4 separate regions of the Homo sapiens genome follow, and regions 2, 3 and 4 are each linked to region 1. The links come from fine-mapping of genetic effects on gene expression. A gene starts in region 1. Each other region holds a variant in brackets. All regions are shown on one strand. Distances are between the middles of the regions. Region 1 holds the start of EFCAB13 (EF-hand calcium binding domain 13). Region 2 overlaps EFCAB13 (EF-hand calcium binding domain 13). Region 3 has its middle 22 kb from the start of NPEPPS. Region 4 has its middle 77 kb from the start of NPEPPS.

Region 1 (2,688 bases):
ATAGTGTGGTGACTATAGCTAATAATAATATATCGTATATCTCAAAACTGCTAAGAGTAAATTTCAAATGTCTCACCATAAAAAACGTTAAACAAGGTGATGGATATGTTAAGCTTGACTTAGTCGTTCCATATTGTATACATATATTAAAATATAACATTGTACCCCATTAAATATTTACAATTATGATTTGTACATATATTTAATAATAATAAAAATCTAAATAAAATATTAAAGAATGCCTACAAAGCAAGGTTTAAGATGTAAATGAACACAGTAGTATCACGGAAGGGATTAAATATTGTAACATTTATTGAGCACTACGTATATATTTTTGAATTCCCACAACCCTGGAAGAATGAGAAAATCGAGACTCAGGGAGCGTTAAGTATTTTGCCCAACTGCATACGATAAATACATAGGAAAAACAAACACACAGAAGAAAACCAAACCAACCAAAGTATCTCTTTCAAAAGGAAACGACAGTCTCCTTAAAGGCAACCCGAGACAAATTTCAGCAAAGCCGTGGGACACATGGCCTTCGAGCTGCTGTCCATTATTGAGTAGCAGAAGCCAAGAAGGATGGAATGTTTTGGAAGAAAGGGGTCGGGGGTCGGGGTGTTCAAAGGACGGACCGAAGGTAAGATTGAAGTGGGGTCAGACCATGGCGGGACAGCGCACCGGAGAATGAACAGCGATTAGGGAAGAGTGGCGAGCGGGTGGCAAGGACGGAGGGCGGAATCCCGGCCGGGGCTGCGGGAGGAAAGCGCACGGACAGGAGCCCCACCGCTCGAATGCAGCGCCCGGCGGCTGGCCTCGTGAGGTCACAGGCCCTTACGAGGTGGGGCAGGCAGGCGCGGCCGCAGTGCCTTCCAGTCAGCGCGGAGGCGGTATTGAGTTCAGCCGCTCCCCACAGCCCCGGAGCCCCTGGGCGGTGGCGGTGGCCGCGGCAGCACCGGCTCGACAGCCGATAGGGTCCTGGGCCCGCTCCGCTCGGGGTGGTCGGTGGGCGGAGCGTCGGGCTCGGTCAGGTGACCGCGGGGGCGGGGCCGCGCGGCGCGGGATCCTGGGAAGGCTGCAGAGCTAGAGCAGCGCCGCCCGAGGGGCGGCAGGGGCTGACCACAGAGAGCGCGGGGGCCTCCAGCCGAGAGGAAGGGAGGGCAGCTCGGGCCGGTAGTGGGACCCTTGGGGGACAGAGGTGGGGAGGGGAGGCGAGACCCGCTGAGGAGTTGGGAGGGGAGCCTTCGAGGTGGAGGGTGGAGAATGCAGTAGGGTGCGAGGGAGGAAGGAGAACAGTGGTGGGGCTGGGTGAAGGAAGGTTCCAGAAAGGAACAGTGAGGGGACTGAGTGGGACAAAGGGGCAGATTGAAGGGTGACTGAGACTGATCAGGTGGTTCCTCAGAAATGGTGGTTGTTGTAGAAGGCTGGCGGTCCCGGGGGTGGTGTCACTTCCCTGCTCCTTCAGCGGGAGGCGGAGACCTCTATTAGCACACTCATTTCCATCTTGCGGGTCGTTCACTCGCTAGCTTACAGGTCCTCTTTCTTCCTGTAGAAGTCGTTGGCTTCGTAAGAGCAGGGTCTATGGGAAGCCTCCTCAGCGTGGGTTCTTGGAAGAGGTGGAGGTTCGTTCACTCGACGTTTGTTACACAAATATGAAAACAGGGTGACGAAAGTTTGAACGTTCATGAATGGCAGTAGCTGCAATGGAGTTGTGTATGCAGTTGGTATTAATGACGTTTTCAGTCCCTCTGGCGAGAGAAAAGCGAGCGAGTCGGGCGGCTTGTGAGGGAAATGTGGCATGAGAGGAAAGAGGAAGGTATTTTGTGAAAGGATGTCATACAGAGTCATGCTTCAGTGAAGACGCCTTTGTTTTTCTCATCTTAAAGCCTCACAGCCCCATTTTCCTCTCAGCTACTGCCTTATTTCTCTTAACAACGTAACTCCTTGAAAGAGCCTACCCTACTGGCTGGGTTCAATTTCTTTACCCCGTTCTCTCTTGTACTCACTCTGACGACATTGTCTCCTTACCACCCCACCCAGATGGCTCCTTTCAAGTTTGTCAGTGTCCTCCGTGTTGTGAAACCTAGCGAACCATTCAGTACTGATCTTAACCGCCCACCCCACCCCCCTTTTTTTTTTTTGAGACAAGGTCTCTGTCGTCCAGGCTGGAGTGCAGTGGTGCAATCATAGCCCACTGCAGCTTCAAACTCCTGGGCTCAAAAGATCCTCCTGGCTCAGTCTTTGGAGTAGCTGGGACTAAGGTCGCCATGTCCAGCTGATTAAAAAAAAAATTCTGTAGAGGTGGGAGTTTCACTGTTGCCCAGGCTGGTCTTGAACTCCTGGCCTTAAGCAGCCCTCCTGCTTAGACCCCCACCCCCGCATCAAAGTGTTGGGATTACCTGCATAAGCCACCATGCACAGCCTGATTGCTCACTCTTGAAGTACTTTCTTCACTTGGCATTCAGGAACCCAGACCTACCTGATTTCCCTCCTCACAGTAACCAGAGTGATCCTTTCAGAAAGAACTTCAGATTATGTAATCCTTCTCCTCAGAACTCTTTCAATGCTTGTCACTCCTTCAGAGTACAAGCCACAGTTCTTACTGTCATCTAGGGGTCCTCCATGATATGCCACTTTCACTTAGCCTCTCTGATCTCTCCTGCTTCAGCCTCCTGGGGCCTTCCCACT
Region 2 (2,688 bases), 35 kb after region 1:
AGGCTGGTCTCGAACTCCTAACCTCAGGTGATCCACCTGCCTCGGCCTCCCAAAGTTCTGGGATTACAGGCGTGAGCCACTGTGCCCTGCTACAAAACATAAATTATATGTATGTATCTGTGGTCAGTACTTAGGAGTCCAAACACACATATAAATCTATAGTCAGAAAAAAATGTAAGTTGAGTTCCAGACAGTAGGGAAAAATGATGGATAGGAGGCAGGACTAACTTGCAACTTTCACTCGGACAGACAGAGCAGCGTGTAGAGACCACTTTTTGAATCACAACTTAGAATAGCTTATTTACTTCCCTATATTCCTTGATTTTTCAAGTCCTGGTTTCCTATTTTGACCTTATTTTCTGTTTGTGGACAGTGTTCTGAGACTAATCAAGAACTCTCAGGTTTCTTTTGTTCCTTTTAAAAGAACACACATAATTCTTGAATATATTGTTGTAATAAAATATCCAAGCAATATATGTGTATAAAGATGTGAAAGACCTTCTTTAACCCAAGATTGCTGCAGTTTAATACTGACCTGAGAATTCTTTTTATATGCACATACATACATATAATTTATGTTTTGTCAAGGCAAAATGAGTTATCAATTACTAGGCAGAGTGGAAGCAAAGGACCTAGGTCTCATAGAAACTAGTAAAAAGATCAAGCATACAGTTAGAAATCAAGAGACTCCCTAGAGAAAAATAAAAGGGAAAAATGCAAATATCTTTTTCTTAAGAGAAAAAGAAATTTTGCCACCTTGTTTTGCAGGAACTATCTTGTTTAATTATATTTCTCAATTATGAAATTAGTAATCTTTTAATATAATTACTGGTCATTTATATATTTTTTCTATGAATTGCCTTTTCACATATACTTTTCATTTAAAAAACTGGGTTGTTCATCTCATTGATTTGTAGGAGTTTTCATATTCTGGCTATTAATCCTTTGTTATGTATGTTACAAATGTTTTCTTCTAGTCTGTTGTTTCTCTTTTAATTTTGAACTGGTGTCTTTGGTTTTTGGAATGGGACTGTTACATTTTATCACAAAATTTATTATTTTTTCTTTATGTCTTCTGAGTTTTGAGTTGTGCTTAAAGAGGCCTTTCTCACCTCAATAGTACACACATACATTTTCATCATGATTGTGGAGTACTGGTTTTCAATGCTCCAGGGAACCTGGAGATGGGTAGATGGGAATAGGGCAAGTTTAAATGCCACAAACCTCACTGTTCTTATTGAGACTCAGTCATTTTTCTTGAAGAAATTCCTCGGATAGCTGCAAGCCTTTGGCTTATTTTCAGAGTTTTGAAACAAGTTGGTTCTGATAATTTTTGCCAGAGTTCTCATTGCTTTTATGGAGCAGAGGGTTTCTGGAGGTCCCTTCCTCTGCTATTTTTGTTCACTTGATCAATAATGACTAGTTGAGACCAGGCATGGTGGCTCATGCCTGTAGTCCCAGCACTTTGGGAGGCCAAGGCGGGTGGATCACTTAAGCCCAGGAGTTCGAGACCAGCCTGGGCAACATGGCAAAAATCCATCTCTACAAAAATACAAAGAAATTAGC[G/A]GGGCATAGTGGTACGTGTCTGTAGTCCCAGCTACTCAACAGGCTGAGGTGGGAGAATCGCTTGAGCTGGGGAGGCAGAGGTTGCAGTAAGCCGAGATCGTGTGATTGCATTCCAGCCTGGGCTACAGAGAGATACCCTGTCTTTAAAAAAGAAAATTAATTAATTAAAAAAAAGACTAATCGAATGAACAAATAATGCCCAGTTTTTCCTCCTTGACTGTGCTTATCAAAGAACTTAGTAATCATTAGTTTATTATATGATGAATTTCAAGAAAATCTAGTCTGACTATAAATGATTTTCCGTCTGAAATTGATAATGGGAATTGTGTTTTTTTTTTTTTTTGTCAAGGCTAATTAAGGGGTGTAGTGGTCAGGGAGGATATAAATTTAGCAGTTGGACACGGCTTTCAATCTGTTTAATTTTTTTTTCAATTTTTTTTTTATTATTATTATACTTTAAGTTTTAGGGTACATGTGTACAATGTGCAGGTTAGTTACATATGTATACATGTGCCATGCTGGTGTGCTGCACCCATTAACTCGTCATTTAGCATTAGGTATATCTCCTAATGCTGTCCCTCCCCCCTCCCCCCACCCCACAACAGTCCCCAGAGTGTGATGTTCCCCTTCCTGTGTCCATGTGTTCTCATTGTTCAATTCCCATCTATGAGTGAGAACATGCGGTGTTTGGTTTTTTGTCCTTGCGATAGTTTACTGAGAATGATGATTTCCAATTTCATCCATGTCCCTACAAAGGACATGAACTCATCATTTTTTATGGCTGCATAGTATTCCAGGGTGTATATGTGCCACATTTTCTTAATCCAGTCTATCATTGTTGGACATTTGGGTTGGTTCCAGGTCTTTGCTATTGTGAATAGTGCCGCAATAAACAAACATGTGCATGTGTCTTTATAGCAGCATGATTTATAGTCCTTTGGGTATATACCCAGAAATGGGATGGCTGGGTCAAATGGTATTTCTAGTTCTAGATCCCTGAGGAATTGCCACACTGACTTCCACAATGATTGAACTAGTTTACAGTCCCACCAACAGTGTAAAAGTGTTCCTATTTCTCCACATCCTCTCCAGCACCTGTTGTTTCCTGACTTTTTAATGATC
Region 3 (2,688 bases), 190 kb after region 1:
CAGTGTGTCTTTTCATGAAACTCTGACTGCATTGGGTTTCGTGAGACCTGAACCTTTTTCACACAAGATACTGTCACACCAGTCCTACTCCTACCTGTGCAATTAATTTTTTTTTTTTTTTTAGTAGAGATGGGGTTTCTCCATGTTGGTCAGGCTGGTCTCGAACTCCCGACCTCAAGTGTGCCCACCTCGGCCTCCCAAAGTGCTGGGATTACAGGCGTGAGCCACCATGCCCAGCCCATTTAGTTTTTTTTTTTTTTTTAAATCAACTGCGCCGGGCGCAGTAACTCACATCTGTAATCCCAGCACTTTGGGAGGCCGAGGTGGGCAGATCACCTGAGGTTGGGAGTTTGAGACCCGCCTGACCAACATGGTGAAACCTGGTCTCTACTAAAAATACAAAAAGCAGCTGGGTGTGGTGGCGCCCGCCTGTAATCCCAGCTACTTAGGAGGCTGAGGCAGGAGAATCGCTTGAACCCAGGAGGTGGAGGTTGCAGTGAGCTGAGATCGTGCCACTGCATTCCAGCCTGGGCGACAGAGCAAGACTCTGTCTCAAAAAAAAAAAAAAAGAAAAGAAAAGAAAAAGAAATACAAACCTCAGCCAGGTACAGTGGTTTACATCTGTAATCCCACTACTTTGAGAGGCCGAGGCAGGTGTATCACCTGAGGTCCGGAGTTCAAGACCAGCCTGGCCAACATGGGGGAAACCCCATCTCTACTAAAAACACAAAAATTAGGCCAGGTGTGGTGGCTCACGCTTGTAATCCCAGCACTTTGGAAGGCCGAGGTGGGTGGATCACCTGAAGTCAGGAGTTCAAGACCAGCCTGGCCAACATGGCAAAACCCTGTCTCCACTGAAAAAAATACAAAAATTAGCTAGGCATGGTGGCAGGTGCCTGTAATCCCAGCTACTCGGGAAGGCTGAGGCAGGAGAATCGCTTCAACCCCAGAGGTGAGGTTGCAGTGAGCCAAGATCACACCACTGCACTTCAGCCTGGGCGACAGAGCAACAGTCCATCTCGGAAAAAAAAAAAAAAAAAAAAGAGCTGGGCACGGTGGCTCACGTCTGTAATTTCAGCACTTTGGGACACCAAGGTGGGCTGATCCCAAGGTCAATAGGTAGAGACCATCCTGGCCAACATGGTGAAACCCCATCTCTACTAAAAATACAAAAAAAGTAGCTGGGCATGGTGGTGTGTGCCTGTAATCCTAGCTACTCAGGAGGCAGAGGCAGGAGAATTGCTTGAACCCGAGGGGCAGAGGTTGCAGTGAGCCAAGATCACGCTACTGCTCTCCAGCCTGGGTGATAGAGCAAGACTCCATCTCAAAAAATAAAATAAGGGGCTGGGCGCAGTGACTCACGCCTGTAATCCCAGCACTTTGGGAGGCCAAGGTGGGTGGATCACCTTAGGTCAGGAGTTCGAGACCAGCCCGGCCAACGTGGTGAAACCCCATCTCTACTAAAAATAAAAAATTAGCTGGGCATGGTAGGGGGAGGAGCCTGTAATCCCAGCTACTTGGGAGGCTGAGGCGGGAGAATTGCTTGAACCCAGGAGGCAGAGGTTGCAGTGAGCCGAGATCGTGCCACTGTGCTCCAGCCTGGCAACAGAGCAAGACTCTGTCTCA[AAAT/A]AATAATAATAATAATAATAATAATAATAATAATAAAATAAAAGAGCCAGGCACGGTGGCTCATGTCTGTAATTTCAGCACTTTGGGACACTGAGGTGGGTGGATCACAAGGTTAAGAGATAGAGACCATCCTGGTCAACATGGTGAAACCCCATCTCTACTAAAAATACAAAAAAATTAGCTGGGTGTGGTGGTGTGTGCCTGTAATCCCAGCTACTTGGAGGCTGAGGCAGGAGAATCAGTTGAATCTGGGAGGCGGAGTTTGCAGTGAGCCGAGACCCCACCACTGCACTCCAGCCTGGGCGACAGAGCGAGACTCTGTCTCAAAAAAAAAATAAAAGAAAATAAATACAAACCTCAACATAGTAAACTTGCTGCTATTCAAGAGCCATTCTCCTCGGTAATAATATTGAGCACTAACATGGTTTTATCCTTATTTTTAAATTAAATTATTTTTAGTGTATTTTATTTTATTTTTGAGACAAAGCCTTTTGTTTGTTTGTTGTTGTTGTTGTTGTTGTTGTTGTTGTTGTTGTTGTTGAGACGGAGTCTCGCTCTGTCGCCCAGGCTGGAGTGCAGTGGCGCCGTCCCAGCTCACTGCAAGCTCCGCCTCCCAGGTTCACGCCATTCTCCAGCCTCAGCCTCTTCAGAAGCTGGGACTACAGGCTCCTGCCACCACGCCTGGCTAATTTTTTGTATTTTTAGTAGAGATGGGGTTCCACCGTGTTAGCCAGGATGGTCTCGATCTCCTGACCTCGTGATCCGCCCTCCTTGGCCTCCCAAAGTACTGGCATTACAGGTGTGAGCCACCGCGCCCAGCCAACAAAGTCTTACTTTGTCATCCAGGCTGACGTGCAGTGGTGCGATCATGGCTCACTGCAGCCTTGACCACCTGGGCCCAGGGAATCCTCCCACTTCAACCCCCTGAGTAGCTGGGACTACAGACCCATGCCACCATGACCAGTTAATTTTGTCAAAATTTTTTGTGGATACAGGGTCTCACCATGTTGCCCAGGCTGGTCTGGAACTCCTGGCCTCAAGGAAACCTCCTGCCTCAGC
Region 4 (2,688 bases), 130 kb after region 1:
CCCAAGCAGCTGGGATTACAGGCGTGCCCCACCATGCCCGGCTAATTTTTGTATTTTTATTAGAGATGGGGTTTCATTAGCCAGGCTGGTTTTGAACTCCGGACCTCAAGTCATCCCACTGGCCTCGGCCTCCCAAAGTGCTAGGATTACAGGTGTGAGCCATCGTGCCTGGCCCACAGTTTTCTACTTAGATATAAAAACAATATAAGATGTGAATTTATAGAAACATGTATCTCTGTAGGAATACACACACACACACACACACACACACACACACACACAATTTCCTAGCCATGCTGACTGAGAGTAGCAATAACCCACACCTAGCACCCACTTTGGCTTCTAAATATTATTCTCACCTAAAAGGAATCAAGGCTCCTCAGAGAAATGGTGATTTCAGAACTACAGCAGGAATAATATAAGATGAGCCTAGATTATACTGTTGTGTCAGAAGTAGAGAAATGCTTCTCTGAAATGATAGGTCAAAAGACACAGAAGCCGGCTTAAAGAGGTCCCACCAGGAAAACCTGAGACAGTATGTAAATCAAAATAAATGACATTAGTGGAATATGACCCATTAAAATAAAATAGCATAAGTCCATACTAATACAAATAATCAGGGAGTAAAGAAAGCTTCACCTTACAGCGGAACGTCAACTGATGAATGTGAAAGAAAAGGTGAAATTAGAAAATCACTACTTGCCATCAATCCTGGTCATAAATTAGGCCAAGAAACATCAATGAATGCTAAAATTAGTGAGGAAAAGGCGCAAGGAACAAGATGTTTATAGGCGAAGTACTTCCCCCACAAAATCCATACTGACTATAAAGAGAAAAAAGATTAACCTCACAGTGGAGAAACCTAAAAGACACACCTTAACCAAGTGGTCAAGGAAAAACTGAAATCATGTACCACCTGATAGGATGCAAACAAAAAACACAGAATCACGTATGTGATACTCCTGCTAAAAACATAACTGCTTTTAATCATGACGAAACATCAGGCAAATCCAAATAGGAGGTCATTCTACAAAATAACTGACCTGTAATATTCAGAAGTATCAAAGTTATGAAACTCAGGGAAAGACTGAGTTACTATTTGAGATTTAAAAAGACAAAAGAGGACTGGGTGTGGTGGCATAGACCTGTAATGCCAACAGTTTGGGAGGCTGAGGCAGGCAGATCACTTGAGGCCAGGAGTTCGAGACCACCCGGGCCAACATGGCAAGAGCCTGTCTTTACTAAAAGCACAAAAAAATCAGCTGGACGTGGTGGTGCACACCTGTAATCCCAGCTACTGGGGAGGCTGAGGCACGGGAATCACTTGAACCCAGGAGGTGGAGGCTACAGTGAGCCAAGATTGCGCCAATGCACTCCAGCCTGGGTGACAGAGCGAGACTCTGTACAAAAATAAAAAGAAAAATAAATAAAAAGACCAAAGAGTCAAAATGCAGTTTATGATCCTTTTGCTATAAAGAATATGTCTACAAAAACACGAATGGGTTCCAAAGATCAGACAGGAATAATGCATCGCTGTTAATTTCCTTATT[T/G]TGATGTTATATTGTATATTCCCAGGAGAATATTCTTCTTTATGGGAAATTCTGAAGTATTCAGGGGTGACAGCATATTATATTGGTAAGTTACTCTCAAATGGTTTAGGGAAGGAAGAGTTCTTTTGTACTATTCCTGCAACCTGTTTGTAAGTTTTAACGCTTTTAAAATTAAAAAGAAAAACAAGGTTTTTAAAAATGAACTTCCAAAGCACTAAAAAAAAAGTGCATTAATATAAAGATTTTCTTTGCACGGCATCAAAGGCAGAAACAATAAAGAGCATTTGCATAAATTACCTCAAAAATGTAAACTTGTGCATTAGAAAAAATTAACCTGCTAGAATCCCAATAACAAAAACTATGAAGACATAATAAAATTAAACACCAAACGTTAAACTATGGGAAAAAACACACACAGCAAATATACGAGACAAAAGAATATGATCTCTAATATAAAACACTTTGTAAAAAAAATTATAATATTAAAATAAACAGATATGGAAGGTCAATTAACATACATGAATAATCTTCAAAAAAAAACTTTAAAATAACCAACCTTACCAGTACTCAAAGAAACTCATTCAAACATTTTAATATTTTTTTTACTAGAAAGAATAGCAAAGATTTTTTTAAGGGTAACACAGTGTACCTAACAAAATATAGAGTTATGAGCAATCTCACATACAGCTAATACAGTGTAAGTTCTAGAGGACAATTTCACACAATGTATTTCTTGAAGCTTCCAAAATGTTCACACACTTTTACACAGATGCTAGCAGTGTATACTAAATGCCAGACACCAAACTAGGCCCTTCAACCACAAAGGGTTGCTTAATTAAATTTACAGTTTGTTGAATCTCATGATATTCTGTATTACAGACCAAGTATCTATTAAAAATACAGCAGAAACACAATTTATTGACACACAAAAGATGCTGTGTAATTTTCAAAAGCAAACAAAAAATATAAGCAAAACGATTCAACTTTTTCGTAAGTATATACTATAAGCAAAAATACACAGAAAAAACCCCGTCTCTACTAAAAAATAGAAAAATTAGTCGGGCGTGATAGTGGGCACCTGTAATCCCAGCTACTCAGGAGGCTAAGGCAGGAGAATTGCTTGAACCCGGGAGGCAGA

The links.
Region 2: its variant is fine-mapped to the expression of EFCAB13 in whole blood (TOPMed, PIP 0.96).
Region 3: its variant is fine-mapped to the expression of EFCAB13 in whole blood (INTERVAL, PIP above 0.99).
Region 4: its variant is fine-mapped to the expression of EFCAB13 in whole blood (TOPMed, PIP 0.96).

The regions. Positions count from the first base shown.
Region 1 is chr17:47,322,902-47,325,589 of GRCh38, forward strand. It overlaps EFCAB13 (EF-hand calcium binding domain 13), which reads left to right and starts at 1,054. Exons shown (of 25, transcript NM_152347.5): 1 at 1,054-1,173; 2 at 1,553-1,622. EFCAB13-DT (EFCAB13 divergent transcript) reads right to left here and starts at 1,000. Exons shown (of 3, transcript NR_110880.1): 1 at 788-1,000. RefSeq lists a silencer at 783-1,192 and enhancers at 1,533-1,622, 1,663-1,842.
Region 2 is chr17:47,357,624-47,360,311 of GRCh38, forward strand. The region is part of intron 9 of EFCAB13 (EF-hand calcium binding domain 13); the gene reads left to right. Among named protein-coding and RNA genes, the nearest start is that of EFCAB13, 35 kb to the left of the region's middle. The variant G/A (reference allele first, on the strand shown) is at 1,567.
Region 3 is chr17:47,507,963-47,510,650 of GRCh38, forward strand. No RefSeq gene overlaps it. Among named protein-coding and RNA genes, the nearest start is that of NPEPPS, 22 kb to the right of the region's middle. The variant AAAT/A (reference allele first, on the strand shown) is at 1,627.
Region 4 is chr17:47,452,968-47,455,655 of GRCh38, forward strand. It overlaps the pseudogene MRPL45P2. Among named protein-coding and RNA genes, the nearest start is that of NPEPPS, 77 kb to the right of the region's middle. The variant T/G (reference allele first, on the strand shown) is at 1,551.